Regions from separate parts of the Homo sapiens genome. Here regions 1, 2 and 3 are each linked to region 4. Evidence: fine-mapped expression QTL. A gene starts in region 4. Each other region holds a variant in brackets. All regions are shown on one strand. Distances are between the middles of the regions.

Region 1 (7,918 bases), 67 kb after region 4:
GAAACACACGCATGTGAGTGTGCACCAGTGTTCAGAAATCCACATGGGGAGGAGGATGCACTTGCACTGGCCCCTTCCAAGGCCATATCTAACACACAAATTTGTACCTATAGTCTTTTCCTTAATGAGGACCACGCCCCTCCCACCACAAATTGTATAAGCTCCAGGACCCCAGAAACCCAGATCTGTTGCTGCATCCACGACACTGACACATATGCCCTTCCTTGGTCCCCTGCCTGCACGTCATGAAGCCCCTTCCTCTGTGTGCGTGCACCCCGTAGCTTCTGTGCCTTACCCTCATCTTCCCACGTGTGTTTGTGCGGTTTGGAGCTTCTTGAGTTTCCGTTTATAGTTAGAAAATTGCCCTGCTCTGGCTCTGGCTTTGTCACAGGAGGCTCGTGTTGGCTCAGTCTGACTGCTGCTTGACCTTTGGCCACCCTGCCCTTGGCTTGGCCTGCTGTGGCCACCTAGAAGCATAATCTGTTGGTTTGTTTTCCTTCTCGGGCTGTGGGTCCTCCCCAGCTGAATCTAAGCCTCTAAAATGGGGTGAGGGTTTCAGATGAGCAGGCAGCCTTTGGAAGGAGCGCTTCCCTGAAGAACCGAAGGTGCTCAGGATGAGCAGCTCTTTTGTCCTATAATTTGCTCTAGGGGCAATGAGATTCCCTTTCTCAGGTCTAGTGGGCCCCAAGAGAACAAGGACTTGCTACACACCTTATGCAGCTGGATAGCAGCATAAGCACTAGAATTTTTTTTTTGTTGTTTGTTTTTTTTTTTTTGAGATGGCATCTCCCTCTGTCACCCAGGCTAGAGTGCAATAGCATGACCTCAGCTCACTGCAACCTCCGCCTCCCGGATTCAAGCGATCCTCTTGCCTCAGCCTCCCGAGTAGCTGGGACTACAGGCGTGTGCCACCACACCTGGTTACTTTTTGTATTTTTAGTAGAAACAGGGTTTCATTATGTTGGCCAGGCTGTACTTGAACTCCAGACCTCAGGAAATCCACCCACCTTGGCCTCCCAAAGTGCTGGGATTATGGGCATGAGCCAATGCGCCTGGCCTAGAACTGGGTCTTCTTAGTCAATTATTTCTGTCCAGTAATGTTGACCCTTAGAATGGACTGCTTTCAACCATGACACACACACAAAAGCCCACCTCCCAGTTCAAATTACACTAGGAACAGACCTCCCTCACATTTGAGATTCTCAGGTGTTAATTGTTCTGGCTCCTAAGTACAGGGGAGAGGGTACTATCTTGATGGATAACTTCTTTAGGAACAAATTATTAAGCATCCATCTGTAGGTGTCAAAGTGGTGAGGGGTTTTATAATCAAAATTGAGCCACTGTCTCCTAAGGATAAATAGCCCAAGGCAGATGCAGACAGATAATAATGATTATTAGCATTTATTGAACATTTACTAAGTGCCAGAACCTTTCATAAATTTTTTGTGGGTATAATCTTATTTACTCCTGTGACGAACCCATGAAGAAGGTCCGTATATTATCCCGTTTTCACAGATGGGGGAATGAAAGCACAGAGAGGTTAAGTTTCTCACCCAGAGTCCCTTAGGTAGTAACTGGTGGAGCCGGGATTGGAACTGGGGCAGTCTGACTCCAGAGCCAAAAATCTCAAGGCTAATGCGGATTCAACTCAATAAAAATAAACGAAAGGATTAGCTGGTAGGATGATGCATGAGAAGGGAATTTCAAGTTGCACAACTAACATAAAGTGGGAAGAAAGCTGGCTTTGGGCTGTGTCCTGGGCTCTAATCCCAGTTCTCTCACTTCCTAACTGTGTAGCCTTGGGCTAATAACCTGACCTCTCAGGTTCTTCCTCCGCAACAGCAGGACAGCAATACCTATCTCTGGGGGTTAAGCAGAGAATTCGCTAGCATCATGACTTGGATAGGTGTTAATTTCCTTTTTCTTTCTGTGCTAGTTGTCAAGTTTTCCTGGGAGGGTGAAGGGTAATTTGGGAATTCAAGGTTAATTCTTATTTCAAGAAGAAATGTCCAACCAGCCCTCCAGTACCCTATCTTCTGGACAAGATTTTCTGCCATCACCACTTCCTCCGTATCCTCCTGGGATGGCCTGGAATTGGAGGAGAGACAGGCTGGAGAGAGAGAAGGGTGTTTGGCTTAATGCAGCTGTCAAGCAGCTGTCACGCTCTGGCCACTCTTTCTTCATCTTCTCTTTTTCCTTTTAAAAACAAGGACATTCTCTTGCATAACCACAGTACAATTAACAGACTCAGGAAACTTAATAACATCGATACAATTCTATTATCTAATATACAGTCCATATTGAAATTTCACCAGTTGTCCTAATAATGTCATTAGAATCCAATTCAGGATCATGTCTCTTTCCTCTCAGTCTGGAAAGTCCCTCAGCCTTTCTCCATGTTCATGCATTGAAGTTTTCTTAAAGAGCACAGGATCCTCTCTGGGACTTCCTGAGCCTTGTCCCGTCTTTCCTCATCCCTGAGCAGGGCTGACTAGAGTAAGGCGATTAATACACTCCCCTTAGGTACAAAATGTCTTACATTTTGCCAAATGGGTGCCAAAAAACTCGGTAGTCAAGATAAATAACATTTCAATGCAATAATTTTAAAATCAAAATCAATGCAAACATTTCATGAAGAACAAAATAGTAACATTCGAAATAAAGACAGGATCTAAAACAGTGCCACTTTAAGCCAAATTGGAGGCTGAGGCAAAAGGGAAATTCCAGTGATACTGGTCCTGTCTTTATTTGAAATGTTGGTATTTCATTCATCATGGGTTTTTAATGTTAATTTTTATTTCAAAAATATCGCGTTAAAATAAGTCTTGATTGGCCGGGTGCAGTGGCTCATGCTTGTAATCCCAGCACTTTGGGAGGCCAAGGCGGGCGGATCACCTGAGGCCAGGAGTTCGAGATCAGCCTGGCCAGCATGGTGAAACCGTATCTCTACTGAAAATACAAAAATTAACTGGGTGTGGTGGCACATGCCTGTAGTCCCAGCTACTTGGGAGGCTGAGGCAGGATAATCGCTTGAACTTGGGAGGCAGAGGTTGCAATGAGCCAAGATCGCGCCACTGCACTGCAGCCTGGGTGACAGAGCAAGACTCCATCTCAAAGAAAAAAAAAAAGTCTGATTACTGAGTTTTTGGATGCCCCTTAAACTTTGTGCTCCCTCCCCCACTCCCACAGTGTGGGCTTGCTCCCTCTCCCAGTCATCCCACCCTCAGAACAAGTTGGGGGAGAGAGGTGGGGCTCCATGCCAGGAGGAGGAAGGTTAGGGTACAGAGAAGAGGCGGGAGGGGAGGGGTACAGAGGCCTGGAACGCAGCCGTGTGTCTGGCCGGGAGCTCTCTAACA[CTAACAG/G]CTTCCAGCTGCTTCCACAACCTCCAGACTTCCGCCTTGGGAGTGGCATTTGGTTGTTTTTTATTCCCCCTCTTCACATCAAATGTGTGATCTAATTAGACTTTGCATCCCTCATTTCTATCAGTCTTCCCTGTCTTGCAGTGCTCCCCTTAGTTGACCTGTCCTGACCCTGTTTCCATCCATCCCAGGAGCCTCTCAGGTGCTGCCACTGGCATGCTCCAGGAGCATCCACCCAGTGCTGGGTGAGCACCACAAAGACCAAGCCAGGGCAAGAGACACAGGTAGGCGTCAGCCAGGGTGAGGGAAATGGGGGGCATCAGCCAGGGCGAGGGACACAGGTGGGCATCAGCCAGGGTGAGGGACATAGGTGGGCGTCAGCCAGGGTGAGGGACACAGGTGGGTATCAGCCAGGGTGAGGGACATAGTGCCCGGGTGAGGGACATAGGTGGGCATCAGCCAGGTCGGGGCAGCTCCTTGTGGCCCTGAGGAAAGAGCTTCGGACTGAGGTTAACAGACCCCGAGGTTAGCCTTGCCTCAGGTATATGAGGTGGGTTATCTCAGCCAACACTTCCAGCTTCAGGGATTTTGTTTTGTAAAATGAGGGTGGTACTAACACTTTTCTGCCCACCTCATAAGACCATAAAAGAACCAAATGAGATAATGATGACAGTGCTTTGTGAACCGTAAAGGATTTTATTTGATATTTTCCCTTCTGTCATAGAACAAATAATCCTTTATTTTGATGAAGACCGTATTCAGGTCTGCTACATTATTTGATCTAAATCCATGAGAAGAGTAAAGGCGGATTCAGGACACATGTTCATCTCTGCCTGTAACCAGCATTTCTGTCAGACTAAAGCAGGTCAGTAGGAAACCATACCCATTCCCACCCTCATTCCATCACCATGTGAAACAGAATGGGTGTGCCCAATAATAGCAGTCGTTGTTTTAATGTCTCAATTGAAGGCTTTTCTTTTTTATAGATTTATTGAGGTATATGATAAATTGTATATATTTAAAGGGTAAAATTAGGTGCATTTTGTGAAACCATAAACACAATTGAGATAATTAACATATATCCATCACTCCCCAGTTTCTTCCTGCCTCTTTGTAATCCCTCCCTCCACCCTGGCCCCAGGCAACCACCCGTCTGCTTTCTGTCACTATAGATTAGTTTGCATTTTTAAGAATTTTATATAATGGAATCATAAATGAATACTTTTATTTCAAGAAAGCCTGGCTCCTTTTATTCCATATAAATATTTTAAGATTCATCCATTATGCTGCATATTTCAATAATTCATTTCTTTTTATTGCTGAGTAGTACTCTGTTGTATGCATGTAACACATACGTTGTACCCAGGTTTTCATGGACATTTGAGTTGTTTGTAGTTTGGGGCTGTCACAAATAAGGCTGCTGTGAACATCTGTCTACAAGTCGTTGTGTGGACATATGCTTTCCTTTTTTTTGGGTAAATGCCTAGGAGTGAAGTCAATGGGTTGTATGGTGCATGGATGTTTAAACTCTTTAAGAAACTGGGAAACTGTTTTCTAAAGCAGGATGTACCATTTATATTCTCACCAGCAGTATATGAGCATTCCAGTTCCTCTACATTTTTGCCAGCACTTGGTATGGTTAGTCTTTTAATTTTAGCTATTCTAGTGGGTGTGGGTAGAGATAGCTCATAGTAGTTTCAATTTGCATTTCTCTAATGGCTAATGATGTTTTCTTTTCATGTACCTTATTTGACATGTGTATAACTTTGGTGTTGTTTGCTATCTTAATACTAAGTTGTGAGAGTTCTTCATAGGTTCTAGATAAAAGTCCTATGTGCGTTATATAGTTTGCAAATATTTTCTCTGTTTATGGCTTACTTTTTCATTTTCGTAACAATGTCTTTTTTTTTTTTTTTTTGAGACAGGGTCTCACTCTGTCACCCACGCTGCTATGCAGTGATGCAATCTTGGCTCACTGCAACCTCCCCCTCCTGGGTTCAAGTGATTCTCTGACTCAGCCTCCTGAGTAGCTGGGATTACAGGTGCACGCCACCATGCCTGGCTAATTTTTGTATTGTTAGTAGTGACGGGATTTCACCATGTTGGCCAGGCTGGTCTCGAACTCCTGACCTCAAGTGATCTCCCCACCTTGGCACCCGAAAGTGCTGGGATTACAGGCATGAGCCACTGCGCCTGGCCTGTAATAGTGTCTTTTGAAGAGCAAACTTAAATTCTGACAAATTTCAATTTATTGATTTTTCTTGATGGTGCGTTTTTTGTCATTTTAAAGACATCTTTGCCAAATGCAAAGTCACTAAGATTTTCTCCTGTGTTTTCTTCTAGAAACATTGTAGTTTTAGCTCTTTCATTTATGTCTATGGTCCGTTTTGAGTTAATTTTTTAATGATAGGGTCAAGGTTGTTTGTTTGTTTGTTTTCATGTGTTTTACAGCACCATGTATTGAAAAGCCTGTCATTCTCCTTTGCATTGACTTTATACCTTTGTCAAAAACCAATTGACCAAAATGTGTGGATTTATTTCTGAACTCTCTACTCTGTTCCATTTATCTATATATGTGTCTTTATGCCAACACTACATTGTCTTGATAACTGTAGCTTTATAATAAGTCTTGAAGTCAGGTAGTATAAATCCTCCAAACCTATTCTTCTTCAAAGCTTTTGAGTATTCTGGATCCTTTGAATTTCCATGTGAATGTTAGAATCAGCTTGTCAACTTTACAAAGATCTGCTAGGGTTTTGGTTGGCACTGTGTTGTATCCATAGAAAAATATGGGGAGAGTTGACAATTTAACAATATTGAGTCTCCTGATCCATGAAAACAGTATTTTTCTCCTTTTATTTGGATTTTATTTCACTTCTTTCAGCAATGTTTTATAGTTTTCAGTGTATAGGTCTTGCACATCCCTTGTCAAAAGTATCCCTTAATTTTATGCTATTATAAATGGTGTTTTAAAATTTCCTTTTTTCATTGTTTGTTGCCAGTATATAGAAATACAACTGATTTTTCTATATAGACTTTGTATCCTGAGCCTCTCCTCCCTTGCTTTGAAAATTGAATTTAAAAGAGCAGGAACCTGAAAATATCAAGGGGCAGGGCATTTGCATGACATGATAAACATTTACAATGGCTCTAAAAGCATGAGCATCTTTCTGTTCTAAGTCATAGATCATTTCAGTAGCAGCTCTACAGTAGCTGTGACTGTAAAGGATGGGAAGGAAGGGTGGTATAGTAAATTCTGACCCTACACAAGTAGAACACCTCCAGATCTCTGGGGTACTCTTGAGGGTGAATGGAGCAAGTGGGAATGCAGTGCAGCCCCTTTAAGGAACCCGGCCAGCCAGCCACCCCGCGGGCTGCTAGGAAGGCAGCCCAGGAGATAAGATAAGGCCCCCTGGCAGGTTTAAAGCAGGGTCCTGAGCCACAGTGGCTGGGCTACTGATAGGCAAACAGGAACCAGGGGTGATAAGGAGGAGGTGCCAGCTACTAAATCCGGGCTGGCAAGAGGAGGAGTAGCCAAATCACTCCTCTGGGGCCTGAAAGGAGAAGGGGCTATTAATTGTGGGTGTGTAGGGAGAGGGAACTTGTATTCTCTGTATATCCCATTTATGATCATGGTAAAAAAGAAAAATCCTACTGGGCTGTACTTAAAGGCACTCTGTTTCATATGGAGTAAATGCTCAATAAATATAGGCTTATTGAGTTCCTTATGCTCTAGTGAGATGCTCTGATATGGGGTTTAGAGACTACCTAATTTCTTCCTCAAATGAGGAAAATCCTGGCAAGGACTTACTCTCACAAGCCCGGCGCTGCTCATTTGCACACATCTGCATAGATTTGCATGTGTCCTGCTTGTAGATACTTTTAGATTTCCCCCAAATCAGTTGCCTATTTTTAAAGGATAAAGAGGGAATTTATCTCTTCTTGTTCTTGCTCACCTTCCGTCTGTATCCTCCAAAGACACTAAAATAATTTCTGCAACTTTGAACTATAAACAATAACTGTGGTTGCATAGTTTATGCAGATATGAAGCAGTTCCTTGACTGACAATGTGTTTCTCCTCTTAATCTCTATTACAATTCCTAGTGCTGCTCTCCAAACTTCTGAGTGGCGCAGAGAGACATTAAGGTAAAAAAATAAAAATAAAAACAAACCCTCTAGCTGAACAGCCAGGCTCAAATTGCTTAGAAAGCTTCAAGAATTAGTTCACTCTACCTGGACAGAGCAGTTAGAGGCAGTTCCATGGATCTGAAGACCACCTTCCCACTGCTTCCCATCCCAGGGCTAGGGATGCTGTGACTATCTTTGTCTGCTCTCCTTCCTCCAGGAATAAATAACAATATCATCCCTCCCCCAGATCCCAGTTCCTCTATTGGCCCGCCAGGCAAATATTTCATAATGTGGGCTCATCCAATTGGGCATCGTGCCAGAGCCAAACGCCTCAGGTTGCAAGTGTGCTCCAATCAGGCGGGGCGGCCTGGGTGGGACTAGAGGGCTCTCCTTCTCCACATGGGAGGCGGCAGCATTACTCAGGTGGATGG
Region 2 (7,631 bases), 40 kb before region 4:
ATGCCCGGCTAAATTTTGTATTTTTAGTAGAGATGGGGTTTCATCATGTTGGCCAGGTTGTTCTCGATCTCCTGACCTCGTGACCCTCCTGCCTCGGCCTCCCAAAGTGCTGGGATTACAGGCGTGAGCCACCGTGTCTGGCTATTTTGTGTGTTACTAATCACGATAATCATGGTATTGTAAAATCATGATGATCTCTCATTTACAAAAGTGGGCCAGGTATGGTGGCTCACGCCTGTAATTCCAGCACTTCGGGAGGCTGAGGTGGGAGGATTGCTTGAGGCCTGGAGTTCAAGACCAGCCTGAGCAACATAGTGAGACACTTTCCTCTACAAAAAAAAACAAAAAAACTGGCCCATGGTGGCGCACACCTGTGGTCCTAGCCTATAGACCCAGTTACTGGGGAGGCTGAGACAGGAGGGTTGCTTGAGCACAGAAGTTCAAGCCTGCAGTGAGCTGTGATTCCACCATTGTACTCCAGCCTGGGTGATAGACTCTGTCTCAAAAAATAAAGTCAGATGGAATCATGCTTTAATACTAGATATATGGATCATTGAGACTGTCTCAAAAGAATAAATGTTATCAGAAAAAAATTTTTACTCCGAAAAAGAAAGCATTTGGGTTATGGCAACCCTATTAATGGATGAAAGAATAATAGCACTCTTAATTCAGGCACTTTCAAGATGAAAGGATAATGAAGAAAAGTTATTAAGATATATTTCTGAACTGGAAGGAAAGAAACTAACATTTAGTTGCAGTTAAACAATATTTAGTACAAACTGAGTTGACATCCCCGGGTTATAATTTTATTTCTATCTTGGGGTTAATTGAAGCATGTCTGCCATTCCCCAGTAATATATGTGAAAATGGCTACATTTACATTAAGCCAGATTTATTGCTATGCTTATCCTGATATTTCATAGAAATTGTGTTATTTTTCTTTTGTACTTTAGTAGAAAGTTAAAAGCAAATATTTAATTGCTGACCTCAGAATTTCTTGTTTTTTTGAGATGGTCTTGCTCTGTCCTCCAGGCTGCAGTGCATTGGTGCGATCTTGGCTCACTGTAGCCTCAACAGCCTCAACCTCCCAGGCTCAAGCGATTCTCCCACCTCAGCCTTCTGAGTAGCTGGGACTCCAGGTGCACACCACCGCACTCAGCTAATTTTTCTGTTTTTTGTAGAGATGGGGTTTTGCCATGTTGTCCAGGCTGAGACCTCAGAAATTTAGATAGTTACTCAGATTTGGGAATTTGGTGTTCTCTGGCATATTGTCATTTGGAGACTTCATTTGGACTCTATTCTCTGTACCTTTTTAAAATAAAAATGGGAAATTTTCATTTTTTTCTCATAATGCACGTTGTTTATAAAAGCATCTAATACAGAGATGTACAAAGACATTTTTGGTACATTAAAAAATAATGCTTCCCAGGGTACCTTTCTGAGCTGAGAGACTTAATTTCCTTTTATCTGTAAAAAGAGGTTTTGAGAGTTATTTAATGATACACAGGTTAGCTATTTGGAATCTTTCCTTATGAACTTAGTTGAATGTTTTGTGATCAACACAAAACACCAATCTTTTCCTTCCTGGATGTGCTCCAGCGAGACTTAAGTCTGTGTTGGCAGCATGCTATTGAGATCTATAATAATCGGTATCATAAAGAGGATACGTAAATCTCTTCTAACCCTGCTGACTTTGAGGATTCATCAAGCAGGACCTATGATGCTTTCAACCAATATGTTTCAGTGACAGGTTTGACATCAGGGAATTTAAAGAGAACTAACTCATTCTACACATGGAACGGAGAAGGCAGTTGAGAGTAGGAGTTATGTATTACCATGTAAGCAATTTGAGTTACATCAGTGTTTCACCACTGGCAGACGCCTTAATCTTATCAGAGAGAGACAGGGGAAACTAGGTTTGTGGAAAGTAGGTTGCTTGACCCATGGGGAGGATACCCTAGAGATCTAATGAGCCTGAGAGCCGCAAGGCCTGGAAAGCTGTACAACAAGGGAAGCAGCTTTGGAACAATTTTTCAGGTTTTGTTCTTGTAATCTTTTATACTTCCCCCTTTATCTCAGTAATATCCTTTATGTTTCCTCCTGCCTTTATTTGCTGAATATTTTATTTTCACTACTGTTTTATAGATCCCTACCAAGAAGAAGGATGAAGAACTTAATAGCAAAAGA[A/C]GAGCACAATTGCCAGAGATGCGAGAAGAAAGGACCTCACACGGTTCTTGACTTTTCTACAGAGCTCACTGCACATTTTCCCACTAAAATGTTGGGTAAATATTTATACTTAAGATTGGATTGGCCAGGGGTGGTGGCTCATGCCTGTAATCCCAGCACTTTGGGAGGCCAAGGTGGGAGGATCTCTTGAGCCCAGGAGTTCAAGACCAGTGTGGGCAACATGGCAAAACCATCTCTACAAAAAATACAAAAAAAAAAAAAGAAAAAGAAATTAGCTGGGCAAGGTAGTGCATGCCTGTAGTCCCACCTACTTGGGAGGCTGAGTTGGGAGCTGTGATTGAATCACTGCACTGCAGCCTGCACGACAAAGTGAGACCCTGTCTCAAAAATGTTGAAAATAAAAAAGATGGATTAACTTTCAGAAACATTCCAAGGATATTCAGGGTCAAAGAAAGAGGTGATAGTAAATGCTGCTTTGAGTTAAGCCTTCTTTTCTTTTTTTTTTTTTTTTGAGACAGTGTCTCACTGTCACCCAGGCTCTGAAGTACAGTGGCATGATCACAGCTCACTGCAGCCTCGACTTCCCAGGCTTAGGCAATCCTCCTATCTCAGCCTCTCGAGTAGCTGGGACCATAGGTGTGCACCACTTTGCTCACCTATTTTTTGTAGAGACAGGGTCTCACTATGTTGCCCGGGCTGGTCTCAAACTACTGAACTCAAGCAAGTAGCCCACCTTGGCCTCCCAAAGTGCTGGGATTACAGGCATGAGTCGTCAGGTCCAGCCATACCTCCTTTTCTTAATGGGCTCTGAAGGCAAAAACCAGAGGAGTCCCAGGGGTTTTGAAAAAGACTTATCTGGATATATGTTCTGAAGTGGGTGTTTTTAAGACCGCATTTTATCATGAAAGACTAGTTCCTCTTTGGATCTCAAATAATCACCTCAAAGAGCCCTCTGATCACTCTATCCCCCAACCCCTCCTTTTTCTCTCACAGTACCTTTTAAAATTATGTTCACTCTGCCCTCATCTTGTTAACATTTTTACTTGTTTCTCATCTACCACCACCCTCACTAGTCTGTAAACTCCATGAGAACAGGGATCTTGTCGTTTATGAGTCCAGAGCCTAGAACTGTGTCTGGTATGCTATAGTCAATAAATATTTGTTGAATAACAACTTTTTTTTTTTTTTTTGAGACAGGGTTCCACTCCCATCACCCAGACTGGAGTGCAATGGTGCAATCTTGGTGCTGAACCTCCGCCTCCCAGGCTCCAGCGATTCTCCTGCCTTAGCCTCCTAAGTAGCTGGGACTACAGGCAGATGCCATCACACCCAGCTAACTTTAATTTTTTTGTAGAGATGGGGTTTCACCATGTTGCCCAGGCTGGTCTCGAACTCTTGGGCTCATGAGCTGCCTGCCTTGGCCTCCCAAAATGCTGGGATTATAGGCGTGAGCCACCACGCCTGGACTCTTTTTTTTAATATATATAAATAGAGATGGGGTCTGGCTATGTTGCCCATATAGCAACTCCTGGCCTCAAGCAGTCCTCCTGCCTTGGCCTCCCAAAGTGCTGGGATTACATGTGTGAGCCACTGGGCCTGGCCAAGTTAATAGCTTTCCCAAAGTCACCTCTCTTATCAGCTTTATTGAAGTTTCATCCACACAGCCTTGTCTGACCAGAAACAAGTGTGCCACAATCATCAGATGATGTAGAATCACAGAATTTAAATGTCCTTAGAGAAAAGCTACCGTAAGCTTTAACTAAATTTGTAGAAAGTAATTACAAATTTCAATTTGGCTAGGTATACCACATCCATTAATTCTAGTGTCATTATTAATATAAGACACATTGTTAATTTATGAATTTAATATGCGAGCAAATCAACTGAGACCCTCCTTTCCCAGAATTAATAGGCTGCATTGGAGTACCAGAGTATTCTTGCCACCACACCAGGGGTTTTAGCTCTTTGGCAGAAGATTGGCTTTGGGTTTCTAGTGATGCTCTGTTGTCTCCACCAGATGGCGTTATCTTCCATCTGGGAGTGCCTGATGGACACCTGTTATTACAGATCTGGTTGCTATTGCTCCCCTGGAGGTGGGTCCCTCAATGTGTAAACAAGCTGGAAAACTGCCCTGCCCTGCCCATTCCAGGCCTGCCTGGCCCAGTGTGACTCCACCTTTTTGTGGTAATTACCCAGAAGTAGGGGCTCTTTCTTATAGGAGAACCAAGATTTGTATTTGAACACAAACAAAGGAACTGATTTTTTTTTTGAGTCTTGCTGTCGCCCAGGCCTAGGCTGGAGTACAGTGGCACGGTCATAGCTCACTGCAGCCTCCAACTTTTGGGCTTAAACAATCCTCCCACCTCAGCCTCCCAAGTAGCTAGGACCACAGGCATGCACCACATTGCCTGGCTAATTTTATTATTTTTGTGTGTAGAGATGGGGTCTAATTATATTGCCTAGGCTGGTCTCAAACTCCTGGCTTCAAGAGATCCTACTGCCTGGGGCTCCCAAAGTGTCGCGATTACAGGCATGAGCCACCTCACTTGGCCCTTGTATACTTTTTTATCACTGTTCAAGTCACATTGAATTTTAATTGTGATTTGCTCTTTCCTTTCTTCCTCTGTGGTGGAAGGGTCTGCGCAGTGACCAGAGTATTTTAGACACATGATACACTTTTCTTTAACTCAAGTGGTAATTTCCATAGCCTCTTTTTTCCAACACACAGGCTCCCTCCCGACATAACAAGTAATTTATGAATTCATTTCAAAGAAGCAATTTTGTATGTGAAAAGGTCTATCTTCAATGTTTACATTATTTTGTATTTGTAGTATTTGATTTTTTTTTTTTTGAAAAGCTAGCATTATTAGTGATGACCTGAAACCCAAAGTTTTAAATCAGTTGATGTAAGGTCGTCATGACTACTCTTTCCAGTGGTAGCCTAAGGTTCGCTGAAACATTGTCATCGTTATGAAAGGCACTTCATTATGCAGGATACCATTCATATCCAGTTTTCTAAGATGGTTGAGGACATTGTTTTTTAAACTTTTCTGTTTTTTAAATTGACAAAAATTGTATATGTTTACTGTCTACAACATGATGTTTTGAAATATGTGTACATTGTGGAATGGTAAGTCAAGCTAATTAACATGTATTACCTCACATACTTAGCATTTTTTTTGTGGTAAGAACCCTTAAAATCTACTCTTAGCAATTTCCTTTTTCTATTTATTTATTTATTTGAGACAAGCTGGAGTGCAGTGGTGCAATTTCGCCTCACTGTAACCTCCGCGTCCTGGGCTCAAGCAATTCTCATGTCTCAGCCTCCCAAGTAGCTGGGACTACAGGCGCGTGCCACCACACCCGGCTAATTTTTTGTATTTTAGTAGAGACAGGTTTCACCCCATGTTGCCCAGGGTGGTCTCGTACTCCTGAGCTCAGGTGATCTGCCTGCCTTGGCCTTCCAAAGTGCTGGGATTACAGGCGTGAGCCATCACGCCTGGGCTTTTTATTTATTTATTTTATTTTATTTTATTATTTATTTATGTATTTATTTATTTTGAGACAGAACCTTGCTCTGTTGCCAAGCTGGAGTGCAGTGGCATGATCATGGCTTTCTTCAGCCTCAACCTCCTGGGCTCAGGCAATCCTCTTGCCTCAGTTTCCCGAGTAGCTGGGACCACAGGCTCACACCACCACAACAGGCTAATTTTTAAGTTATCTGTAGGGGCGAGATCTCCCTATATTGCCCAGGCTGGTCTTGAAGTCCTAGGCTTAAGTGTTCCTCCTGCCTCCCAAAGTGTTGAGATTACAGGTGTGAGCCACCTCACCTGGCCAATTTGCAAGAATATAATACATTGTTATTGACTATGGTCACCATGTCGTACAGTAGATCTCTTGAACTTATTCCTCCTCACTGAAAGTTTGTATCCTTTGAGCAACGTCTCCCCAACCCACTTCTTGTTTTTTATTAACTTATTAAAGTATAATTTACAATAAGTTTCACTCATTTTAAGTATGAATTCAATGAGTTTTGATAAACACGTGTAGTCATATAAACACCACCACTATCAAAATATGGATCATTTCCATCACCCAGAAAGTTCCCTTATGTTCTTTTGTATTCGGTCCCCTTCCCAACCTCCAGCTTTTGGCAGCCATTGCTTTTCTTTTCTTTGTCTTTTTTTTTTTTTTTGACAGACAGGGTCTTACTGTCACCCAGGCTGGAGTGTAGTGGTGTGATCACGGCTCACTGCAGCCTTATCTCCCTGGGTTCAGGTGATCCTCCCACCTCAGCCTCCTGAGTAGCTGGGACTACAGCTGTGTGCGACCACACCCAGCTGGTTTTTTGTTTTTTTTTTTTTGTTTTTGTTTTTGCTTTTTTTTTTTTTTTTGTATTTTTAGTAGAGATAAGGTTTTGGCATGTTGCCCAGGCTAGTCTTGAACTTCTGGGCTCAAGAGATCTGCCTGTTTTGGCCTCCCAACATGCTGGGATTGCAGGTGTGAGCCACCACGTCTGGCCTTTGATCTGCTTTCAACACTTTTAGCTCTTCTAGAATTTCAGAAAAATGGTATCGGATGTACAGCATGGACCCTTCTGTGGTGGGCTTCTTTACTGTAATGCTTTTGAGATTCATCTGTGCTGTTGAGTGTCTCTGCAGTCCATTCCTTCTGTTGAGTGTATCAGTAGTCCATTCCTTTTCATGGCTGAGTAGTATTTCATTGTATAATTATACCACTATTTGTTCATTTACTAGATAATAAACAGTTGGCTTGTTTAAGTATGAATTCAATGAGTTTTGATAAATATGTGTAGTTATATAAACATGACTACATATATAAACATATAAACATATACATATATAAGCACATATAAATTTGTGTCTATTATGAATAAAGCTTCTATGAACTGTTGAGTACAAGCGTTTGAGTGGACATATGATTTCATTGCTTTTTGATAAATCCAGGAGTGAGACTGCTGGATCATATGGTAAGTATATATCTAATTATATAAGAAACTCCCAAACAGTTTTCCAAAGTGGCTATACTACTTGGCAGCAGCGTATGAGCTCCAGTTGCTCCACATCCTTGCCAACACTTGATATTGTAAGTCTTTTTAAGTTTAGCTATTCTAGTGGCATCTTATTTTGGTGTAAATTTGCATTTCCTTGGTGTTTAATGATATGGAGCATCTTTCCACATGTTTATTTGCATTGATAAATACCTTCTTCAGTCAAGTGTCTGTTCAAATCTTTTGTCCTTTTTTTTAAGCCAAATTGTTAGTATTTATATGGATTTGTGTATGTGTGTGTGTCTTTAAAAACATATTCTAGATATAAGTCCTTTATATTTTGCAAATATTTCTCCCAGTCTGTGGCTTGCCTTTTTATTTTTTAAATTATGTAATTTGGGGAGCAGAATTTTTTTAATTTTGCAGAAGTTCA
Region 3 (7,918 bases), 970 kb before region 4:
TCTATTTTCACGTGACCTTATAAGGACACCAGTCATTGGATTAAGGCCTGTCCTAATCCAGTATGACCTCATTTGAACTCGACTATGTCTGCAAAGACCCTGTTTCCAAATAAAGTCACATTCACAGGTACCAGGGGTTAAAACTTCAACATATCTTTTTGGGGGTGTAATTCAACTCAAAACTCAATGTAATGGATGGATGAGCAAGATGGGAAGAGCAAGAACCCCCCAGGGACTGAGCGCCTCTGGGAAGGCTCCCTACAGGAGCCCACTGTTATAACTGGGCCTGCAGGGAAGGGAGACTTGAGGTGCCAAGCACACTGAACAAAGGGGCCTTTGGGGGAGTGGTGTGAAGAGACTTCAGAAGGCACGTTGGAGTCTGTGCAAACCTTGAGTTGGAGGGTTAATGCCTCAGGAGGAAGGGTTTGGGGCAGGTCAGCCTAAGTGTGATGGAGCTGTTCTGGCTGTTCCTCTCAGACCTCACCCCTCTCTACCCACAGGGCAAGTGGTGACAGAGGAGGGAGAGACAATCCCTGGGGGAAGGGGAAGGGCCAGTTAGCTGCAAAATGTCTTTAGAGTTTGCGTGCTCCCCCATGGTATGATCCTTTTTATTTTAATGGTTTAATTATGGGCTGTTTCCCAAATACTCCATTCATTTTGAGCTCCCCAGGCAGGTACTTGGCTCAAAGAACCCCCAGAGGCCCTGTCTACAGATCCGACCATATCCTTGTGGAGCGTAAGCAGCCTCCCTCTAAGGATCTTCGTGAAGTCCCACCCTTCCCACCTCCCCTTCTTACCTCTGCCCAGTGCTCCCTGAATACGTCCAGCTGCTCCTCGACTCCCTGTCCTGAACAGCCTGTCCCCTCCACAAAGCAGAGCACCAAGAACCCACCATCGCCGCACAGAGGGCAAAGTGAACTTCTTTCCAAGAGTGAGCTCTTTGCAGATCCTGTGCAGCTGCTATTTCATACCAGATGAGCTTCCCGCAACTCCAGCCAGCACACCCTGGACCTGCCTGCCCCAACACACACACACACACACACACACACACACACACACACACACACACTCTCTCTCTCTCCACACTCTCCCCCTTCTTTCTTACTCTCATGCTTGCACATTCACTCATGCTCACACACACGCTCTCACACATCCCACAAATACACTCACACATGCTTATACCACAAACCGCCCACTCTTACACACTCACCTTATGGAAACACTCACATATTTACATTCACAGGATGATTCATGCTCACACGCACACCTCACATTCATGCTTCACACTCTCCTTGTACTCTTACCCCTCAAATCCACACATGCCTTACACACTTATCCTCATTTGTACGCCTCAAATAACACACCTTACACTCTTACACGTTCACACACACACCCATATGCGCTTCTACACACATGTTCATGCACATATTTTTGCTCTTACACTCACACACTCACATTCCCAGACTCACATTCTGAGCAGGCATCCAGGCTCGGAGTCCTTTAATTTGGGGGTGAGTGGCTGCAACGTTACCCAGGCCTCACCCTTCCCTCTGGAACCCCAAGCTGCAGTTTGCCATCATGGCTAGGGGAATCTTCTGCACCCTTCTAAAGATGGTGAGGTGTTTTACAGGTGAGGAAATGGAGACTCAAGAAGTCCTGTGACTTCCACAAGAGCTCCTGAGCTCCATGAAGCAGGGAACCCGGTCTTCCTCACTTACCCTCACATGCTTAGCACCTCCTGTGCCTGGCACAGAACCAGCACTTGATAAACCTGTGTCGAGTAAATGACTGGATGGCTCTCTGAGGGGAAGAACTGGGAAAGATCCTAGTGAGGGGAAGTCCCAGTTCCTAATTTAGCCAGACTGGACTCTCCTGGCTCTTGAGACAGTTTCTTTTTTTCATGCATGATCCCTCAGCCACTGCCCCCCTCCAAAAAGGAAACAGATGACTAGGAGGGTCCATGGGATGAGAGCTGGAGGCCAGAGACTCATCTGAACACTTGGTGCCTGAAGTGACATTTCAGAGTTGATGGGTTTCCAGGTGGTTGGGGAGAAATCTATCCTCCTCCCTTCAGCGTACCTGCAGCATGGACAGTGGGACAGGAAGGAGCTCCAGGGTGCCAGCTGCTGGCCTTCTGCTCTGCTTGGCTTCTCACTGGGCTGTCGGGGCTCCTCCCCTGCTTAGCCTTGGAAGGGAGCACATGGCTGTGCAAGCAGGGCTGGGAACTTCCATGGCCCCATGCACCATCTCACGGTGGCCCACCCTGCCCTCCTTACCTGAAGGACGACACAGGACCTCGGGGCACTCTGCCTGCCATTCAACAGAAAATGGGCCTTGGTCCTAATCACAGCCTAGCAATTCATAGTCTCAACACCAAACATTTGTAAGGGAACAGTAATTTACAAATCCCTTTCCCAGGCTCCCCTGTTCCATCTGTAGAAGGAGACTGGACTGGAGCTTCCCTTCCAAATTCATCTTACTCCACCCCAGACCTTCGCTCCCGGTGCCTCGGGGCAGCCAGCTCAACCCTGGGTGGCAGGTGACCTCCTTATCTTCACTCTTCTCTCCCTCACACAGCCACTAGCTTAGTCCAGACCGTCACCGTCCCTTGAGAGGACAGTTTCAGTAGCCTCCCAACTTCACTTCCCCTACCTTCAGGCTCCCCACCAGACACCCTCCACATGGCTGCTAGACTCCCTCTGTTCTTCTTGTCTACGTATCCGACCATATCCTTGTGAAGCGTAAGCAGCCTCCCTCTAAGGATCTTCATGAAGTCCCACCCTTCCCACCTCCTCTTCTTACCTCTGCCCAGTACTCCCTGAATGCGTCCAGCTGCTCCTTGACTCCCTATCCTAAGCAGCCTGTCCCCTCTGCCCGGAATGCCCCCTCAATGGTGTACCTGGCGAATCCACTGTCTCCTCACCCCACCTCATCCCCATGCACACAAAACTTTTAAGGTACTTCTCAGGACTGTAATGATATTATTAACTCTTATAGGCCCAGGGCATCACACAGAGTGCCTGGCATGCGATATCTAAATATGTAGCACACAACTGTTGAATAAAAGCTAGAAATCAAAGAGTCCAGAGGCAGCACCAGCGTTGAGGGAATCTTTAGGGTGCTCCCTTTCCCTCTGAGTTCCTCTATGGCCTGCAACTGACACAAGGAACCAGATCCAGGAAATAAGCAATATTTCAACTCCCTCTGCTTAGGGATTGAGTTCCCTCTCCCCTTGACTGTGGGCGCTCACAGGGGTGCTAGGTCAGACCTGAGCTTTTTATGAGCTGTGGGTGAGAACCAGCTGATTAACCCAGCCTTGTAGTAATAGCCCCTCAGTACCAGATTGTGCTACCGTTATTTGGGGCCAAGAGAAATGCTGGCTCCTGCCTTTCCTTGCCAAGGGCCAGGAGCTGGTGACCCGGCTAAAGAATGTGCTTTGCTTGGGGTTTACATTCCAGGATTGGCTTGGGAGGCCAAGGGCTCAGGTTGCCATTGGGAGCCAGGCACGGGGAAGGGGGGTGGCAATGGGCAGACCTTTCTCCCACCTCCCTCCTGGGCACACTTCCCATGCCCTGCCCTGCCTGGTCATTCCAAGTGGAGGCAGGGCCAGGAGGAAGACCCTCAGCCCCTTCATAGGGAGCAGCATTTAAATGGAGTGTGAAGTGGCCTAGTATCCACTGCCATAAACCCCCACCTGCTGGGGAGCCTTTAACAGCTTACAAAGTATCTCCAAGTTTGGGGTCTTCTTTGAATAATTAGGAACTGAGGGCTGGGAGATCGAGTCACCTGTCCCAGGTCATGTGGCCAGCAAGCAGCAGAGTTGGGTGTAGCACCTCATCTCCTGACTTCCATTCCCAGGCTCATTATACCTCCTGCCACATCTATATCAACAGCCCCTGTACCCCAACATCTAACCAGAAGCCCCGACTTCACAGGGTCAGTGGAGAATCAATAAAATAGTGAGTGTGAAAGGGTGGACACCTGTAAAGATGGGGGGTTATTTTTCTTTACTCATCCTTTACTCAAAAAGGGTCTCAGGTGACTACAACGTAATAGAGTGAGTTAGTAGAAAGTACTTGAAGACCCATGGAGGAATCCCATGAAAATTTTCCCCAGTCGCCGGCATAGCTTCTCCACTCCCTAGCACCCACACTTCCCAACTCCACAGCAATGGAAGTGACAGATCCTCCGTGACTGGGAAAAGGACACAGGAGTGAAGGGCAGAAAAAGAGAAAAATCTCTGGTTTCGCTACTAACAATGGGGTAAGGAGACCCTTTCTAAAACACTGACTGGAAGTTCTAAACTTTATTTATTTATTTATTTATTTACTGAGACGGAGTTTCACTCTTGTTGCCCAGGCTGGAGTGCAATGGCAGGGTCTCGGCTCACTGCAACCTCCGCCTCCCAGTTTCAAGTGATTCTCCTGCCTCAGCCTCCCAAGTAGCTGGGATTACAGGTGCCTGGCTAATTTTTGTTTTTTTAGTAGAGACAGGGTTTCACCATGTTGGCCAGGCTGGTCTCGAACTCCTGACCTCAGGTGATCCGCCCAGCTCGGCCTCC[C/T]AAAGTGCTGGGATTACAGGCGTGAGCCACTGCGCCCAGTCCCTCTAGACTGCAAATCTACACATATATCCACCCCTCCACCTCCCAACTCTCAGAACAACTTCCTTCGGGTGTTCGAATCTAGCACTAAGAGTTGTTAAGAGGTCCTTTCTTTTCTCTCTCAGATCAGCTCCTTCCTCCCTCCCTTAACACAGAGGTCCAGCCTTGGGCTGTTTCAATGACCACTTCCTAGCTCTGAGCTTATCTTAACTGTCTTCTGTCCCAAATCAGGTCAGCTGGAGCTCAGGGAACTCTGATAACCCCTCGCTGTCACACACACACTAGGTGCGCGCACACACTCTTGGGTCTCTGCCGAAATTGAGGGAGGGGACTTGGGAGGACCAGAGCCCAGCAAAGCGCCAGGCAGACGGATAGGAAACCATCAGTCTGACGACCTCACTTCTAATTTCATCCCACAGCAAGCCCAGGAGGTAGTCATTTCAGATGAGGAAAGTATGACGCAGAGCAGCTTAGTCTACTTGACACTCTAGGCAAGTCAGGAATCCTCTCTAAGCCAAAGTATGAGGGCTAAGAGTGCTGTTTCTGGAGCCAGATTGGACCCCAGGCAATCTGGCTTCACCACTTGACAACTCTGTGACCCTGCATAGGCCCTTAATTGCTCTGTGTCACTTTTCTCACACGCAATGGGGATATCATAGGCTAGTATGTACTTCATAGAGTTGTAGAAAGGATTGAATTCATGAATACAGGAAATCTAAGGAACAGTGGCTGACACACAGTATGTTAGCTGCATAAAAGAATAATTCTTATTTATACATGAAGTGGTGGAGACATGAGTTATAGTCACAGTCAGTTAGTGACAGAGCAGAGCCTGAAGCCCAGGTTGCCAGACTCTTGAGCCAAAAACATTATGCCAGCCTGGGGATGCGAGACGGAATGGGGCTCCTGAATGTCCAGTACTGAAGGAATCAGTTACCAGGTGGCAAAAGAAAGCGAGTGGCTGAGATTTCTAATTTTTTTGGGTGGGGGGGACGGAGTCTTGCTCTGTTGCCCAGGCTGGAGTGCAGTGGTGCGATCTCTGCTCACTGCAAGCTCCGCCTCCCGGGTTCACGCCATTCTCCTGCCTCAGCCTCCTGACTAACTGGGACTACAGGTGCCCACCACCACGCCCGGCTAATTTTTTGTATTTTTAGTAGAGACGGAGTTTCACCATGTTAGCCAGGATGGTCTCGATCTCCTGACCTCATGATCCGCCTGCCTCGGCCTCCCAAAGTGCTGAGATTACAGGCGTGAGCCATCGCGCCCAGCCCTTGAGGTTTCTAATTTGTCCCTGCTTAGATATTGCAGAGAAGTTAAAGCAGATTTGAAACAAAACTGAGAGTTGGTTTATCCAAATCTCCTTTTACAGATAAGGAACCACCCCTAAAAGAGAAAGTCCTTGGCCATGGCATGGTGTGGGTTGGTGGTGGAAGTGGAGCTGGACCCCGGCACGCCTGCGTCCTGTCTCTCTGCGTGTGCTCTCCCTCCCATTCCAGGATGGAGACAGGGCAAGCTCTTTGGCTTGGGGAGAAGAGCTAGCTTCTCCTTCAGTCACATCCCCTCCCAGGCCTGGTCTGTGAATAACATTCGGTTTCTCAGGGTAATTGAGAGTTTGAGGGCTGTTTTCAGTGTTTGCGGCACAAATTCTCCAAACTTCCGGCAAGACATACTAGAATTTAGAATTTAGAACCAGGGCTGGCTTAATAAATGTTAGATATCATTATAGCTGTTATTGCAATTACTCAGTCCATATTTGTTGAATGAATGAATGAATGAACAAATGAACGGTTTACTGGAGGAACAAATTGCCTAAGCCGACTTCTGCTTGTGGTCACAGCTTTGGGCATCCCATAAAACATGCTAGGCTTAGTTTGGTCAGAAGAGGGCAGCTTTGAGCTAGGCTTCCCAATTTGCCAGCGACTAACAGGATTTGCATCCCTTTCTTGGAGGGGAGGTAGGGAATACTACAGGCTGTAATTCATCCTCAGGGCTCAAGACTCATCTTAGAGGTATCTGAGATCTGCCTTACCTGCTCCCAACCCTCACGTGACCCCCATGGCATGGCCTTGGTGCCTCTCACCTCTGCTCCTACCTGCACCCTGCTCCCACCAGGACACATCACAGCAGTCCACACACTGAGCTGCTTTCAAATCCCCTTTTACCAGTCTGGACCCACCTCCACTCCCCTACAGACACACACACAAATTGTGAAGTGTGTAAGGACAAGGACAGACATTTGTTCCCACTTGTTTTCCCAGCACAGCACATAGTAGATCCAATAAACAGCTTTCCCCCATGACCCCCTCAGACATGGATCAGCCATGGGACTTGGGGCTGGGGGGTAGGCGTCTCCCTTCCAGGAGTCAATAGTGGGGCAGGCAGGATTGAGAGTAGCTTAGCTCAGCCCAGATATCTCAGCACATCCACACATCCGACCACATGACCCAGGAATTCCCCAAGACTGCTGGTGGCAGAGTCCCCGACCAACACGGATTCCCTGTCAGGCACTCTCGCTTTCCCACCAACTAGACCTCCTTTAAGGAATTTGAGATATGAGTTTCAGCAGCTTAGATCATTTCCGAGTCACATGCTGTTCTGGCTCTGTGTCTTCCTTGCCTACCTGCTGTGATCTTTGGTCACCCATGGCTCCTCACCTAGATGGGAATTCAGATTGTAGTCAAAGGAAGCTGGAGCAGGGGTGAGAAGGTCCAAGAAGTTGCAGATGATTCCCTCCCGACCATGGCCAGATAGCTGGTAATGGAGTGGGCCCAATCACATGTAGGTGCTTTTAGTTTCATCTTTGGATTCCATCGCACATCCATTCCTTCAGTTCATAAGCATCTATGGAGCGACTTTTAGGTGCCTCGCAGCACACTGGGTGTTGGGGATACCTGGAAAAAATTACAGGAGTGTAGCTAGATTAAGCCTTAAAAGAAGCGTTAAGCTCATCTGTATAATTCTTTCATCTTATGAAGAAATGTTGATTCAGCTGGCCAATTGCCACTTGTCCTTCAGGTCTCAACTTAAAAAGTCCTGGCTTTAGGAACCTGCGCCTGACCAGCCTCCTCCCACCTGGGATACATATCTTAAAGAAAATCTGAGCCGGGCGCAGTGGTTTACACCTGTAATCCCAACACTTTGAGAGGCCAAGGCGGGCAGATCACCTGAGGTCAGGAGTTCAAGACCAGCCTGACCAACATGGAGAAACTCTGTCTCTACTAAAAATACAAAATTAGCCGGGTGTGGTGGCGCATGCCTGTAATCCCAGCTACTCAGGAGGCTGAGGCAGAAGAATCGCTTGAACCCGGGAGGCGGAGG
Region 4 (7,918 bases):
CCACCGAGGGAACCCCACCCAGCCGTTGGTCTTCCTTGTTCTGTTCTGGAAGCTTCCTCCAGGAAGGTGCGAGAATGTGCAGGCAGGCAGTCCACCCACGGCCCTGGCGCGCCTACGGGCTGCTCAGCGCTTCTTGAGGGGTTGCAGGGAGGCAGAGATCAGAAGCCCAGGTCTCTGCCCCGCGTGCTTCCAGGCTGGGCAGTGAGACCCCGGTGAGCCTCCAAGGCTGTGCTGGGTCTCTGGGATTCATCAGTACAGACCCCAACCCGAACTGCGAGACCCCGGAGGAGGGGCCCTGGGAGGGGCGGGGGAGCCACCAAAAGCAGTTCTGTTGTCTCCAGAAGGCAGACAGGACAGAGCACAGGAGTGCTGGGGCAGCAGTTCTGGTACAGTGACCCCACTAGCTCTAGGCTTAGAAAGGCAGATAACACCCCAGAACAGTAAAGAAGGAGGCGGCCGAGGAGAAAAGGTAGTGAATGTGCTGGGCTTCAAAGAAGCCCATTTGCAGGTGAGGAAAACAGGCTGGATAGTCAAGTAATTTGTTCAGTCAGTGAGTTACTCAGGGATGGAGCTGGGCTTCCAAGTCACACAGGTTATCGTTAGCCAGGCATGGTGGCTCACACCTGTAAGTCCCAGCAACTCAGTAGGCTGAGGCAGGAGGATTGCTTGAGCCTGGGAGATGGAGACCAATCTGGGCAACATAGCAAGACTCTGTCTGTAAAACAAACTAAAAAATTAGCTGCATGTGGTGGTGTGTACCTGCAGTACCAGCTACTTGGGAGGCTGAGGAGGGAGGATTGCTAAAGCCCAGGTAGAGGTGGAGGCTGCAGTGAGCTAGTTCATCCCACGGAGCTCCCTTTGCTGCCCCTAGTTGGCATGTTCTGCGAGGAAGAGAGACCCATGTGGATGCAGTTCCACTGAATGGGCAGTGAGCCAGTCAAGTTAGTGGCCACCAAGACTGTATGGTAGGGAGTGGGGATGGCACCAGAAAGGTGGGGAGGACCCGTGTGTTTGGAGACCATGAGTAGGTGCCTGGGAAGCTTGGACTTGATCCTCTGAGCAATGGGGACCAGTGATTGTAGAGCAGAGGAGAGACGGGATCGCAGAGGTGCTTTCTGTGGAATCCTCCCTCCCTCACGCCACCTCACGCCTTCCCCATTGGAGTTGTTTAGGTGAGGCTTGCTTCTCCTCTTCTGGGCTCGCAGAGCAAGAACTTAGATTTGGCAAAGGGAATTTATTATCTCTGGTCCATCCGCCTCACCTGTCCTTGCTGTAGCTCTAAGATCTTCATGCTACCACATCTCTTCCGCCTTGGTCCCCCAGCTAAAGGCATGCACCCCACACCGACCCTCCCTTTGGCTTCTCATGCCCCTGAAGCTACTCAGATCCCCCAGAAACATTCACATGTCTGGCTCAGGCTTCTCGAAGGATCCGTGGGACTCGTCTGCGGCCCTTGCCCTCTGCCTGCCAGAGAGGAAACCCGCCCAGCAGGCCCATCTGTTGGTCGCCTGCCTTTTCCAGCTGCCTGAGGATTGTGGGGGCTTGGGCTGGGGTCTCTGTCCCCCTCCCCGGCCTCCCTCTGGGATGCTGTAATCTCTTGCCTCCACTCCTTTCCTCCACTGGCTCCGCAGGGTCAGAGACCCCCAAGAGCCCCTCATCTTGGCTGACTGAAAGCAGACTCTCCCCCTGCCTGCACCTGGCAGCCTTGCCAAGTCCTGGAGAGCCAGGGCAGGTGAGTTGGGCTTGATCGGTCCTGCCTGGCACTGGGCCCTCATCCACAACTTGTCTGCCCCTTCAGCAGAGCAGCTTTCCTATAGCCAATGCAGGGCTGGCCTGACATCTCAGCTGGGCAGGGGAACAGTGGGAGGTGACCAAGAGTCCCCCTCCCCAAGAGTGCTGCTGAGCTGCGCCTGCTGCCCTAACCCCAGATTCCTGGCTCCAGCCTGGCCTGCCCTGGGGTGGGAAAGACAGTCCCTTCAGTAGCTCTCTAGGTCCCTGTCTTCCTCCAATGCTGTGGTGTGTGTGAGTGGGGTGTGGAGCCACAGCCTTCACACCAACCAGCCAGGTTCCTCCCAGGCCCTGGGAGGGAAGTCTGTGCTCCTGTTCCTTCCGTTGCACATTCCTTTACAGATAAGGGCTTCAGTTGGTAAAAATGATATATGTACTCAGATCACACTAAGAGAGACCCACTTGTATTGGAGTCAAGAGGCTTAATTTTTTGATCAAGTTGTTCTAATAATAAACAAAAAATGCAATCACCAGGTGAGTGGGGCCTTGCAGACACCCTTTCTCTAGCTCCTGCTTCTTGACATATTTCTCTATTCAGAAGTGACTCCAGAAGCTCATCTGGTTCAGTCCCCAGTTTCCAGGTTTAAGGGGCAGATGGGACTGAGACCAGCGAGCCTGCCTGGAGGTTGAGGTGGGAATCTTTTGGTTTTTTCCATCTTTCTGATCCTGTTTATGAAATCAGTGTTTTTATTACACTTGCCCATTGTCACAGAGAATCCGTGGATAGAGGAAAACTGAGAGAGATGTGGATAAAGGGAAACTGAGGCAGAAAGCAATCTTTGTCTAAGCAGAAACAGAGCTACGACCCTATTGTCTGAAGTCCTTCCTTCTGCCTCTGATCCTGAATAATACAGAACCCAGGTACCCCGTAGCTTGGCTAGCATCCTTGCTCAGGGTTATCAAGACCGATTTGGGCAGGAGCTAGAGAAAGGGTTTCTGCAAGGCCCCACTCACCTGATAATTGCATTTTTTGTTTATTATTAGAACAACTTGATTAAAAAATTAAGCCTCTCGACTCCAATACAAGTGGGTCTGTCTTAGTGTGATCTGAGTACCTATATCATTTTTACCAACTGAAGCCCTTATCTGTAAAGGAATGTGCAACGGAAGGAACAGGAGCACAGACTTCCCTCCCAGGGCCTGGGAGGAGCCTGGCTGGTTGGTGTGGGGGCAGTGGCTCCACAACCCACTCACACCCCACTCATCCTGGCATCTCATAGTGGCCCCCAACCCTCTCCAAATGTTATTTCTCTAAATTCACCATATTGGGGGGGGGGCGGGGGATGGGGAGGCCCCAGGGCCCCAGCCAAGCCCTCTTGACACCTAGAGACGTGCCCCTCTCTGGAGTAGACAGCCACAGAGGTGAAAGGTGATCACCAGGCTGGCTGGGTGAGGCCCCACACATGATTCTAAGACCCTGGGCAGTTTCTGGCTCCCTGCAGTCTCTTGTGGGGGACTCTAAAAATGCAGCTTACCCAGACGGTGGCCCTGCTCCCCTTTGGGGGGCAGCCTTCTCCTGGTGGTGGAAGGCCCAGGAGGCTGTGCTGAGCCACCCCATCCTCTCCCGGGCAGGCAGGCTGCGTGGATGGTTAGCAGCTTGTCGCTGGTGTGGATGGAGTTAAACCTTTTCGGGGACTATTTACTCCTGATCCTAAGTGACAGCTTGGGGAGGGAGAGTCACGTGGCCCTGAAATCCCCGGGGGAGCCGATGGAGCATGCCCAGCTGCCTCTGCCTGGGAAAGATGCTGGATCCTGCAGTAACCACAACAGCATCCTCTCCCTGCGCCAGGGACCTGCCAGCCGGAGAGATGACTGATTAGATCAGATTAGATCCGGAGCCCCGCTCTGCAGAAGGGGGCCCCAGGGGCGGGGGAGGAGGACCCCAGCTGGCCTGAGCTGGGGGGAGGGGTGCCTTGGGGCTCGCAGAGTTAGAGCTTTCCAGCGCGGGGATCACACCTCAGAAGCCGGTGAGTCTGTTTTCATGCATCACATAGATGAGGTGGGAGGAGGAAGGCTGGGCTCTGGTCAGGGCTGGCAGCTGCCTGTCTGCCGCGTGAGCCTGGGCTGCTTGCACTGCGGAGCACTGGCTTCCCCATCTCTCATCCTTGGCAGCCTTACTTGGGGATCATGGATGCTGAGAATGCTAATTATAGCCCTCCCTGTGCCCCCACCCCCACCTCCAGAGTCCCCTGTCAGGGCTGATGCTGTTTAAATTGATTACATTTGAATTGCATCTCCTGGATGAAGGCAGCGTTGGGGCTGGCAGCTTCCTAGGGTCCAGCAGGGGTCCCCCACGCAAGCTAGCACAGAGAGGCCAGCCCACCCTCCCTTTAATCTTGCCAGCAGGAAGGAGAGAGGGAGGGGGTCCAGGGTCAGGCTCAGGTCAGCCCCAGGGACTCACCTTCCTCAGCGTGGGGAGGGGTCAGGGTGTGTATCATTCTTATGAGTCAGAGGTTGGGTCGAAGGGTGACAGAGGCTCTTGGATTCCAATTCCTAGGACGCATCTGAGCTCTGGGGGTCTCAGATTTAGTGGGGAGCTCTTGAAGGAGCTGGAGCCTGGTATGTGGTAGAGGAGGGCAGGGAATGAGGGGATGGCATTTATAATGATGGGACCAGGCTGCAGCCAGCTAAGAGCCTCGAGGTATTGTGTGAGGAGTCTGAGGAAAGGAGGACAGTTGGGGGACTGGCCAGAGAAGGGTAAGGAGGGCTACAGTGGAAGGGGAGGGAAGCGGGGCGAGACAGGAAAGTGGCGGGGGTGGGGGAGAAGGGAGAAGAAGGGAGAAGAGGCTCCTGGGAAATGCTCTTTGAGACAACAGGCCAGCCAGGGCAGGGAAGGGGGCTGTGGAGCCTGGGAGAGCAGAGATGGAGAACCGGGATAGAGGGAGAGCCATCCCCGGGGCACAGGGGTGGGGAGGGAGAGCTGCAGGAGGGTGGAAGGTGGTGGGGAGGAGGCTGGAGCTCAGAGCTGGTGTCAGAGGAGGTTGCAGCCTTCAGGGATTGGAGGCTCTTCCCAAAGCCCTGTAGACCCTTTACCCTCAATCTGATCACTTGAGTGGTGCACTCTGCTGAGGGTCTCCTGCATGGTGGGGCAGGGTCCTGGCTGGCAGGTATCTGCCTGAGCCCACTGTCTGGGCAGGTGCGGGGGCACTGCGGGCACTTGCCCTACAAATCTCCCAAATCCTGTTTTCCAGGCCACCCTGGAAGAGTATGAAACTGAGGAGGGCTCCTGTGGCTAGGACGGTTCAGTCGCCAGCTTTCACCCCCGAGCAGCTGCATTTTAGCTTCAGCAGGACATGAGCAGACCCTGCTGGTGGAGGGGAGGTGGGAGCGGCTAGGCTCTGGCCTGTCTCCAGGTTGGGGTGGCAGGAGGGGCTGAAGGCACCCCTCCTGGCACTGCCACTGGGCTTTCCTTATGGAAACAAGCGAGTTTCTGTGTCTTTGCACAAGGGCACAGAGTGCCGAGCCACAGATATGAATTATTAAAAGTCATTGGTTTTCCAATCAGCGGCGAGGTGATAAATGTGTTAGCACTGGTGTGTAATTAATCCTGGCAGGCTGCTGCACACAGGCTGCAGACAATGGGGGTCCCCACCTGCTTTTTTTTTGCTGGGCTAGGCTTCTTTTCCTCCTTCCTAGGAAGGTGATGGTGCAGGACGCCTTACACAGATAATTACTTTGAATGTGTCTGCCTGGATTATTGAGTTGGATTATTTCTGCTTGTAAATGAAATAATTACTGATCCCTCAGTCAGTGAGGGAGGCAGCCACCTTGGCTCCCGGGCTGACATCAGAGCCCCCACCTCGCCCAGACCCAGCCTGCAGCCTCGGGCTCATAGAGCGAGCTCTCTTGGCCCAGGGGACTGGCCTAGGCCAGAGTGAAGAAGCCGCAACAGCAGATGGGAGCGTGGTGTCAACTGGTGCTGAACAGGCTGCGGTTCCGTTCTCCGAGCCAATTTCCTCATCGTCTTCCTCACTGCCTGTTGTGAATTTGATGAGGTCATTGGCACTGGTCTTGGCGCACCCATGGGGCCCCCCAGAGGAAGGTTGGAGCTGTGCCTCACAAAAGAGCTGCAGGATTCGCACTCCCCTGAGCTCTGGGGTGAGGCGAACGGGCTCAGGAAGCCAGGGCTTAATGAGGGGACTTGAGCAGGCCAGTCTCCAAACACTTAAAGCACATTCAGAGAGGAAAAAAAGACTATATTTTGGGAGACATTTAGAGTAACTGGGAGCAGAAGGAAAAGAAGTTGAGGGTAGGCTGAGTGGAAGCCTTCCCTTGACCATCTGTCTGTTCAGGGGGCTCCTGCTCAGCACCTACAACCTTCAGACGCCCCTCAGAGACTATCTAGTCCAGACTCCCTCCACATCCAGATGAGCCTTCCTCAGCCTCCCTGACAGAAGCAGCAGCCTCACTTGGATAATTTCAGTGACAGGGAGCTCATTACCTCACAAGGCAGCTTCCTCTGTGGCTGGAACATTCTTCTATGTTGAATCAAAATCTGCCGACTTCTAAGTTCCACCCTCTGGTTCTGATTCTTTGAAGCTGTGCAGAACAAGTCACCTCTCTCTTTTACGTGGTCATAAAAATAGTTTTCTTTTGATTAAAATAGTATATAATAGTCCGTGTGTGGATGTAATATATTTTACATGATCATTTCTATATTGGACATTTAGGTTGTTACCTTATTTTCCTTTTACAGATAGCACAAGAGGAACATTTTTGTTCATAAGGCTCTTTCTGTGTTTTGGGTGACTTAGGATAAATTCCAAGGCATAGAATTAATGTGATGAAGGGTGTACATTAAAAGAATTACTATTCTGTGAGTGTAAAAGTAATACATTGTCATTTAAAAATGTAGAAAAACCTAAAGCAAAGTTAAGAATTACCCATAGGTTTGATATATAATTTTAATTTTGGTATACTTGTACTTTTATGAATTCATGCATGAGTGTATGTCTAGATTATCACAATACATATATATCATTAAAATTTTGGCCCAGATGTGTATTATTGTCACTTAAACAGAAAGCATTTTTTCATATTATTAAATATTCTTTAACAGCATTATTATTATTATTAATATTATTATTATTATTTGAGACAGGGCCTTGTTCTGTTGTCCAGGCTGGAGTGCTGTGGTACAATCTCTGCTCACTGCAGTCTCAACCTCCTAGGCTCAAGCGATCCTCCTACCTCAGCCTCCCAAGTGGCTGGGTCTACAGGTGCATGTCACCATACCTGGCTAATTTTATGTATTTTTGATAGAGTTGGCCACGTTGGCCAGGCTGGTCTTGAACTCCTGTGCTCAAGTGATCCACCCACGTCGGCCTCCCAAAGTGCTGGGATTACAGGCGTGAACCACCACACCTGGCCTTTACAGCATCATTTTAAAGTGGCTGTCTCATATTTCATTATATACCTTTTCAATTTATTTGTTGATTTGGCCCCTATGTTAAACTAGGTATTTCCAATTTTCTACTTTTATAAACAAGGCTACAATGAACATATAAATATCTGAATCTTCACACATATCAATACTTTTTTCCCTTAGGTTGCATTTCTAGAAGTGAAATGGCTACATTATTAAAATATTTTGCCAAATACCTCGTTCAAAAGCACTAATTTACATTCCTCGCAGCTGTGTCTGAGAATGGATTTTTTTTGTGTGTGTGTGTGTGTGTGTGTGTGTGCCATGAGCATCAACATTGAGTATTACAACTTTTTCATGGTTTTCATTTATTGCTTCGATCCATCTGTTTGACTGGGAGTGAGACAATTTTTAAAAAGAGACTTATCAAATGTGACATTGTCCATATTAATAACAATGCAATATATAATATGTCCATGTAATAAACATATTTGTGTGTTCGAGTCTTTGGCTTTTCTTAAAAGGCAGTGTGTGCAGAGTCATTAAGATCACAGTTGGCCAGGAATAGTGGCTCATGCCTGTAATCCCAGCACTTTGGGAGGCCGAAGCGGGTGGATTACTTGAAGCCAGAAGTTTGAGACCAGCCTGGTCAACATGGTGAAACCCCATCTCTGTTAAAAATATAAAAATTAGCTAAGTGTGGTGCTGGCTTCCTGTAATCCCACGTACCTGGGAGGCTGAGGCAGGAGAATCCATTGAACCCAG

Which allele goes with the higher level. Alleles are on the strand shown, and positions count from the first base shown. SD is a standard deviation of normalised expression in the study named. Not every link is listed here.
For the expression in lung of the gene that starts at base 3,520 in region 4, allele CTAACAG in region 1 goes with a higher level than allele G (moderate effect, 0.63 SD a copy in GTEx).

What was found. PIP is the estimated chance that this variant, and not a neighbour inherited with it, causes the effect.
Region 1: its variant is fine-mapped to the expression of PLEKHA6 in lung (TOPMed, PIP above 0.99). The same link has a PIP of 0.9 or more in gastroesophageal junction and spleen.
Region 2: its variant is fine-mapped to the expression of PLEKHA6 in whole blood (TOPMed, PIP 0.96).
Region 3: its variant is fine-mapped to the expression of PLEKHA6 in cerebral cortex (GTEx, PIP 0.99).

What each region holds. Positions count from the first base shown.
Region 1 is chr1:204,288,348-204,296,265 of GRCh38, reverse strand. All of the region lies in intron 1 of PLEKHA6 (pleckstrin homology domain containing A6), which reads left to right. Among named protein-coding and RNA genes, the nearest start is that of PLEKHA6, 68 kb to the left of the region's middle. RefSeq lists an enhancer at 47-938. The variant CTAACAG/G (reference allele first, on the strand shown) is at 3,357.
Region 2 is chr1:204,395,304-204,402,934 of GRCh38, reverse strand. It overlaps a transcript of PPP1R15B not described here. Among named protein-coding and RNA genes, the nearest start is that of PPP1R15B, 13 kb to the left of the region's middle. The variant A/C (reference allele first, on the strand shown) is at 2,188.
Region 3 is chr1:205,324,187-205,332,104 of GRCh38, reverse strand. No RefSeq gene overlaps it. Among named protein-coding and RNA genes, the nearest start is that of NUAK2, 6.4 kb to the right of the region's middle. The variant C/T (reference allele first, on the strand shown) is at 4,562.
Region 4 is chr1:204,355,531-204,363,448 of GRCh38, reverse strand. PLEKHA6 (pleckstrin homology domain containing A6) reads left to right here and starts at 3,520. Exons shown (of 23, transcript NM_014935.5): 1 at 3,520-3,755. RefSeq lists enhancers at 91-644, 3,632-4,267, 4,383-5,309, 5,310-6,237.